Linked DNA regions of Homo sapiens. The protein of the gene in region 2 interacts with the protein of the main gene of each other region in a pairwise test. Each region holds a gene or a part of one and is shown on either strand. Other genes may lie near its edges.

Evidence for each region.
Region 1: the proteins of TMEM237 (region 2) and CBLIF interact in binary tests that used the Homo sapiens proteins (3 or more experiments, as listed by UniProt).

Annotation. Positions count from the first base shown.
Region 1 is NC_000011.10:59,842,700-59,846,894, reverse strand, and holds the start of CBLIF (cobalamin binding intrinsic factor precursor), read left to right. Parts: upstream 1-1,395; 5' UTR 1,396-1,441; coding exon 1,442-1,520; intron 1,521-2,839; coding exon 2,840-3,016; intron 3,017-3,753; coding exon 3,754-3,867; intron 3,868-4,195. UniProt on the Homo sapiens protein: Promotes absorption of the essential vitamin cobalamin (Cbl) in the ileum. After interaction with CUBN, the CBLIF-cobalamin complex is internalized via receptor-mediated endocytosis.
Region 2 is NC_000002.12:201,637,004-201,640,503, forward strand, and holds part of TMEM237 (transmembrane protein 237), read right to left. Parts: intron 3,263-3,500; coding exon 3,258-3,262; intron 2,043-3,257; coding exon 1,986-2,042; intron 1-1,985. UniProt on the Homo sapiens protein: Component of the transition zone in primary cilia. Required for ciliogenesis.

The sequences.
Region 1 (4,195 bases), on a different chromosome or scaffold from region 2:
TGTCTTACATTTGCTCATTAATTCACTCATTCAAAAAGTATTTTATTTCTACTGTGAGCTAGGTAGTGTTGTAAGGGCTAAGGATAGAGCAGTGAGCCAAAGAGACAAAGCCCCTCCCTCGTGGAGCAGACATTCTAGTAGGGAGATAAACAAACGATAAACAACCACACACTTAGTGCGACAGAGGGCAATGAGTTATAGCAGGCGAGGGGCATGAGGGGTGTCAGTGGAGGTGAGGATGTAGGATCTTATGTAGGGTGGCCTGGGAAGGCGTCTCTAAAAGCTTACCTCTGAGCAGAGACATGAAGGATGTGAGGAAGCCACCATGAGGCTATTTAAAAGAAGAGGGTCCTGGGCTGAGGGGGACATCATGTGCAAAGGTAGCTGATGTGTTCAAGGGGCACAAGAAGTTCTGTGTGATGGGAGCGGTGTGAGCAAAGGGGAAAACGCCTGGAGCTGAGGTCAGAAAGGAAACCAGGAGCCAGATCTTCTAAGGTCTTATAGGTCATGAAAAGGGCTTTGACTTTTATGCTAAGATGGGCGCCACTGGAGAATATCCCCTTAAAATGAGCTACTTTACATGCAGGAAAAAAACAAACAAAACTCCTTTCTTTATAATTTCAACATACCATTTTCAGTTCTCCCTTATAAAGAAGTATAATTTGCATTATAATGTAGCTACACATCTGAAATATGTATTCTTAATGGATCTCACATTTTCTAATTACTTACTTTAAAAGATAATATCTGAAAGCTTTGGGTGTTTGAGATGGCTTTTATCTCCAGATAAGGAAAGAGAAATCAAACAAAACCATTTCTGGGAAACCGAGGTCCATTTCTTGCCTAAAGTCAAACAACTTCAAAGAGTCTAGGCTAGAATCCAGGTCCAGGTAGACATCATTAATTTCACAAAGCCAGATGTCACCTGGCAGATCCCTGCCTGAGAGCCTAAAAGGACATGTTGTAAAGCAGGTGTCTAGGATCATAAAATGAGCTGATGCCTATGAATGGCCTAAATCCCAGTGAAGTAGTTACTAAAAAGCAGCCTGGTAACTGATTGGATACAATAAGGGCTAGAAGAGGTCTTGTTGATACTAGCACATTATCCAAACTTCCTGATGTCTGACCCAGGCCTTTGGTAAAGGACATTTTCTCAACATTGCCTTCACTGCATACCCAGCCCCAGGTTTCTCATATGACTGTGCAACCTAGAAGTCACCTTCAGACACCTTGGAGGGTCTATAGTCGGTAAACTTAGATAAGCAAATGAAAATTTACTTACTTGTATCAGGAAAGGAGAGGTCAGCACAGGGGCAGTTAGGAGAGGCTGGGTTGGGGACAGATTATTTAACAAAGGGAAGCACATATAAGAGAAGGTAAAGAAATATTCCACTTGCAAATCGCGGTACCTGTGGATGAGAGACATAGACGAGAGAGTGAGATGGCCTGGTTTGCCCTCTACCTCCTGAGCCTTCTCTGGGCTACAGCTGGGACTAGTACCCAGACCCAGAGTTCATGCTGTGAGTATGATGTTTTTCCAAGGAGGTCAGGGAAGCAGTTGCCCTGGGGAAGGGGCTGTGACCTCTGACACTGAGTGGTTGAAAATAGCAATCACTATAGGAATTCCAAAATGGGTAAGTCTGAGTGTGATTGTGTGCTGTTCATCCTTCCTGACTTAATAGCATAAGTTCTTTGAGAGACAAGTCTATATGTTTTTTATTAAGAGAGATGGGGCCAGGTGCAGTGGCTCACACCTGTAATCCCAGCACTTTGGGAGACTGAAGCAGGAGGATTGCTTGAGCCCAAGAGTTCAAGACCAGCCTGGGCAACATGGTGAGACTCCATCTCTACAAAAAAAATAAATAAATAAAAATAAAAAATTAGCTGGGCGCAGTGGCATGCACCTGTGGTCCCAGCTACTCAGAAAGCTGAGGTAGGAGAATCGCTTGAGCCCAGGAGGTCGAGGCTGCAGTGAGCTATAATCACACCACTGCACTCCAGCCTAGATGACACAGCAGCACCCTGTCTCAAAAAATCAATAAATAAAAATAATAGAGATGGAAGTACTACTGCAGGAATAATGGTTGATGGTACAAAGACAGACACTCAGTGGCTATTGTGACCAGACACCACTACATACTAGTGAGAGATTTTGGTACTCACTGAGGATAAATTATATCCCAAATCTTTAATACTCTTCATGAAAGAGTAAGGAAAAAAATGAATGCAAGGAAATCAGTGATTTCCAGGAAAGTGATAGAAACTATGAGAAATGTCATGAGCCATATTGCTTGAAGTTACTAAATTTAAAAATCACTTTCTTAAGGATATGGATTATTTGAGAAGATGTAGAAACTAATTGTCCTCAAAAGTAAAATCTCACCATTTTCTCCATTTCTCTTTAGTGACTTAGGACACTAATGCTAATCAAGTGTTCTCCTAAAAGGCATCAAAGATGGCCAGGCGAGGTGGCTCACGCCTGTAATCCCAGCACTTTGGGAGGCCAAGAAGGGTGGATTACCTGAGGTCAGAAATTCGAGACTACCCTGGCCAACATGGTGAAACCCCATCTCTACTAAAAATACAAAAATTAGCCTGGCGTGGTGGTGCACACCTGTAATCCCAGCTACTCAGGAAGCTGAGGCAGGAGAATCACTTGAACCTGGGAGGCAGAGTTTGCAGTGAGCCGAGATCGTGCCATTGCACTCTAGCCTGGGCAACAAGAGTAACACTGTCTCAAAAAAAAAAGAAAGAAAGAAAAAGCATCAAAGACACGGGGATAATGTTTTTGAGAAGGAATGAGGGTTAGAAGGTGAGTAAATGGCTTTCCTCTTCTCAGCCGTTCCCTCAGCACAGGAGCCCTTGGTCAATGGAATACAAGTACTCATGGAGAACTCGGTGACTTCATCAGCCTACCCAAACCCCAGCATCCTGATTGCCATGAATCTGGCCGGAGCCTACAACTTGAAGGCCCAGAAGCTCCTGACTTACCAGCTCATGTCCAGCGACAACAACGGTGAGACATCTGAGCCGCTCGCACTCTCCCTGAATCTCACACATCACATACCACCTCCAGATTCCAACTCAGCGTCCTTCCCACCCCAATGCTGCCTCTGACTGTAAATAAACTACCCAAACACCTTTCCTTACATACCTGGAAGGTACCTGGAAAGAAACATGTGTGAAGTCAGAGCATTCATGGAGGAGGTCAGTAAAGCAGGGAGAGCTCTGGACTAGACGTCGAAAGAGCAGCCTTCTGGTTCTGGCTCTGCCACGTCATAACTCTGGGATCTGAGACAAGTCACTGGATACTGCTCAGCCTCACCTTGCAGATGATTGTAGTAACAATAACCCTACTACTACTAATAGCAATGATAATAATAATAAAATCTCTGTTCTGCCTATCTCCCAGGAGCTGCCTGCAGGCTCAAGTTAGATAAAGTTTAAATTATTTTGCAACTGTAAATTTCTGTATATAAATCTATATGAGTATTTTGCTGCTTTTCTAATCAAATACCAGGGATTCTCAAATACCAAATACTAGAGTCATCAAGTTACACAGAGGCCACTAGATTAAATATTCCCTTACGTATTCTTCCATATTTTTTTCTTTGGAAAGACAGATCAAAGAACTGCTCATATTATTAAAAAGTCAAAATGCTCTAGATAAAAAGCAGAGAACTCATCACTGGCTCCTGGAGAGCTGTCCCCTGAGGATGTCTCTGTCTAACCGTTGTGTTCTCTTCTCTGCAGATCTAACCATTGGGCAGCTCGGCCTCACCATCATGGCCCTCACCTCCTCCTGCCGAGACCCTGGGGATAAAGTATCCATTCTACAAAGACAAATGGAGAACTGGGCACCTTCCAGTAAGACCTGACTGGAAGGGAGAAAAGAGTCAGGCATATGGTTTTACCTAAGAATTTTAAACCCAGAAAGGAAAAGGGTGGGGGTGGAGAGAAAGGCAAGTTAGGGAAGAGACAATGTATCCTTCACTCTGGTCCTTCTGATAATCCAGACCAGAAAGATTCATTTCCAATCCAAAATGAACTAGAAAAGGTCATGATCCCAAGGACACAAGCTTGTCCAGCCATCACCTGTCTAAAGACACAGAGTCATCCCTTTTATTCTTTGCAGATGCCTGATGACATTCTTTTGAAAAACACTGAAGTTGCTCTTTGCCTATGCTGTGTCTCT
Region 2 (3,500 bases):
AACTAATTATCCCCCAAATCTTTCCTTCCTCCTCACCTGTAACTTTGGGCTTTAAGTTAGGAAAAGAAATAAATGAAGGAATAAGAAAGGCTGAGGAAGAAAAAACGAGGGGGCTAAAAAGAAGAGCAAAAGACAGGAGGAGGAGAAATTGCTTCAGAACATTTAGAACTTTGAAAAAGGTGGAAAACATAATAAAAACTGATACCATAGAGAATTCTCTTACTTGCCTCTTGCCTTAAGAATTTTCATCAGCCTCTATATAGTAAAGTCCTTCATTAATAAGTTAAAGAATAATAAAGTCATCATGGATAATTGGAGTTAGCAGGTAATTTATAAGTCTCTTCATTTGGTCATTCACTTCAACTTCTTCCCTCATGAAATCTTTTAAAAGAATTTTAACACATACCTGACTGCATTCCCTTCCTTGCTTGTCTTCTTCACAAAAGAAATAGAAATTGCACTGGGTGCAGTGGCTCATGCCTGGAATCCCAGCACTTTGGGAGGCCAAAGCAGGCGGATCACATGAGGTCAAGAGTTCGAAACCAGCCTGACCAACATGGCAAAACTCCCTCTCTACTAAAAATACAAAAATTAGCCGGGTGTAGTGGCATGCGCCTGTAGTCCCAGCTACTCAAGGAGGCCGAGGCAGGAGAATCGCTTGAACCCAGGAGGTGGAGGTTGCAGGGAGCCAAGATCACACCATTGCACTCCAGCCTGGGCAACAGAGCAAGACTCCGTCTCAAAAAAAAAAAAAAAAAATAGAAATGTATCAATAAACAAATGAAAATGTTTAACCTCAGTAGTACATAGAGAAATGTAAACTAAAATAAGCTACTTTTCCCCCACTAAATTAACAAAAAAATTTTAAAGATTGATTATTGTCCAATGTTGTTAAGGATTTAGAGAATGAGACACTCTCAGACTCTACAGGTAGCAAGATAATAACTAAAGCTTCCTTAAGGTAATTTAGCAGAGTCAGTCATACTAATAATGCACACATCCTGCACCTAGCAATTCCACTGCTAGCAATCCATCCTACAGAAGTACTTCTTCCCTACCACCCACTATTTTATGCAGAACTGCAACATTGTTGGAGTGAAAAATTGGAAATAACCTAAATAAATAACAGAGCAGTGATTATGGTACATTCTTATCATGTAATACAATGAAGTCACTGTTTAAGAATACATAGAACTCTATGTATTAAGAAACAAAGATAGTATGTATGATTCCTTTTATGTTTTTGTTGTTGTTTGTTTGTTTTAAAAAAGGAGCAGCAACCACAGAAACCTTTTAGGAGTGTGAGAGGTCTCAAGTAAAGAGTGAAGTTAAAGGATCAGGTAAAGATAATCTTGAGGTTTCAGGCCTGAGGGCTGGGAAAATGGTAGGTTCCATTAACAGAAAATCATGAGACGTAAAAAAATTATTTATTCTTAAAGGCAACGATGGATTCTAGATGTGCTGAGTTTAGAGTTACGGATGCAACTTCCAGGATTATCAGTGGATGACTAAGACAAAAACGAGTTCTGCTCATGACTGAAGCTTTACTATTTAAATGATGATGTGGCCATGCCTTCAGACTCATGCTGTAATGTAGAGATATTCTGATTGAAGTGAGATTTAAGAACTCTGTGTTTCTAAATTCAGTATCTTGTTCAAGGGTCTGGAATCAATCATAGCTTAAAACCATGTATGTTGTCTGGGGATAAAAGACCTTAAAGAGTCCAGGAATATCATGGAAATAGGAGCTTAGATGGCACCACCTTCTATTCCATGAATGCGTCCAGATACTCCTCAGGCTGCCCACTGCCCTGTACCTCACCACCACCAGGAATTCCACTGCTTCAAACTGGCCTTAATTCTATCCTCAATGAAGTGGAGATTCGGGGCTGCTGGGGCCTTAATTCTCCCTTATCTGTGATGTTTACTACGCCTGAGGTCCTGGGAAAACTTGTGATCCCACACAACAAAGAATAACGTCTTACCTGGTGTGTTTTTTGTTCTGGGCTTCTTTTTCTTAGGACGACTAAGTGGAATATCATCTATAAAGCAAGAAAAAACGTCAACAGAAAAGGGTGCCTAAAATTCAATGCAGAGAACAGTCAGAAGAGAACTTTTAAACAGGGAAGAATTCTCCCTCTCTTCCCTGGGCCTGGCAAACGTTTATAGATTAGGGGAAGAAGGCAAGAAATTGAGAAGATCAGAGAGAGCCCACAGTGTGGTACCAGTAGCACACTGCATGTCAGTAATGTTAGAAACCATGACACAGAAAGTGGGTTCAACAAATATTCATCTGATCCCCTATATTTCCCAGCCTCCTTGCACATAGGTGTAGTCTATGACTGGTTCTGGCCTATAGGCTGTGAGCAGAAGTGATCTGTGTCATTTCAGAGCCAAACGTTGAAAGAGCCAGTGAGTAATCTTCCAGCTTTCTCTTCCCTTGTTGTGGTGACTGAGGAAGCCTCATGTTAAGATGGTGGGACCACAGCACAGAAGTAGCCTAGATTGCAGACCAGGCGCAGTGGCTCACACCTGTAATCCCAACACTTTGGGAGGCCAAGACAGGCAGATCACTTGAGCTCAGGAGTTCGACACCAGCCTGGCCAACATGGCAAAACCCTGTCTCTACTGAAAATACAAAAAGTAGCTGGGCATGGTGGCACACGCCTGTAATCCCAACTACTCAGGAGGCTGAGGCAGGAGAATGACTTGAACCCAGGAGGCAGAGATTGCAGTGAGCCGAGATCACACCACTGCACTCCAGCCTGGGCAACAGAGTGAGACTCTGTCTCAAAACAAAAGAAAAAAAAAAGTAGCCTAGATTGCTATATCAATAGTAAAAAGGTAGTGAAAGGTAATGGTCCCCCATTTTTGCCATAGCAGACTTTGTATTAATTAGAAATAACCCTGTGTGACACTAAGTCACTGAGATTTGGGGGTTTTAGTATAGTATAACCTTGTCTACCCTGACTAAATGAGACAAAGGAAGGTGCAGTCCTCATTATAGAGCTACAAATTAGCCAACAGTTATGTGCTGGGTGACCCCATTCAGGGATGAAGTGCTTTTATAATGGAAAGGTCATCTAGTGCTATGTATCAATGACAATTTTTAAATGGTAGTCATGGGAGATTATTTCACAAAAACATATTGTAGAATTACAAATTACACCATTCAGACTCAGTTTTAAGAGAAACAAACCAAGGAATCAAACTAATTTTTGAACACCAAATATTATATTTACATTAAACTAACTCACCTTGACTAACACGTCATATAACACCAAACAAATTTAATCAGCAGGACAAAGACAAAAAAGAAACAATTAATTAGAAACCTGTTAATATTCACAGTGAAAATTGACTTAAATCATTACAAATTTAAAATAAAATTAGCTTTCACATAATAGCTAGTTTACAAACTAGTTTACTGTTTATAATTAAGTGGTTTAATAACACTGCTAATAAAATAATGTCAATATTTTCTGAACCTACATATACAT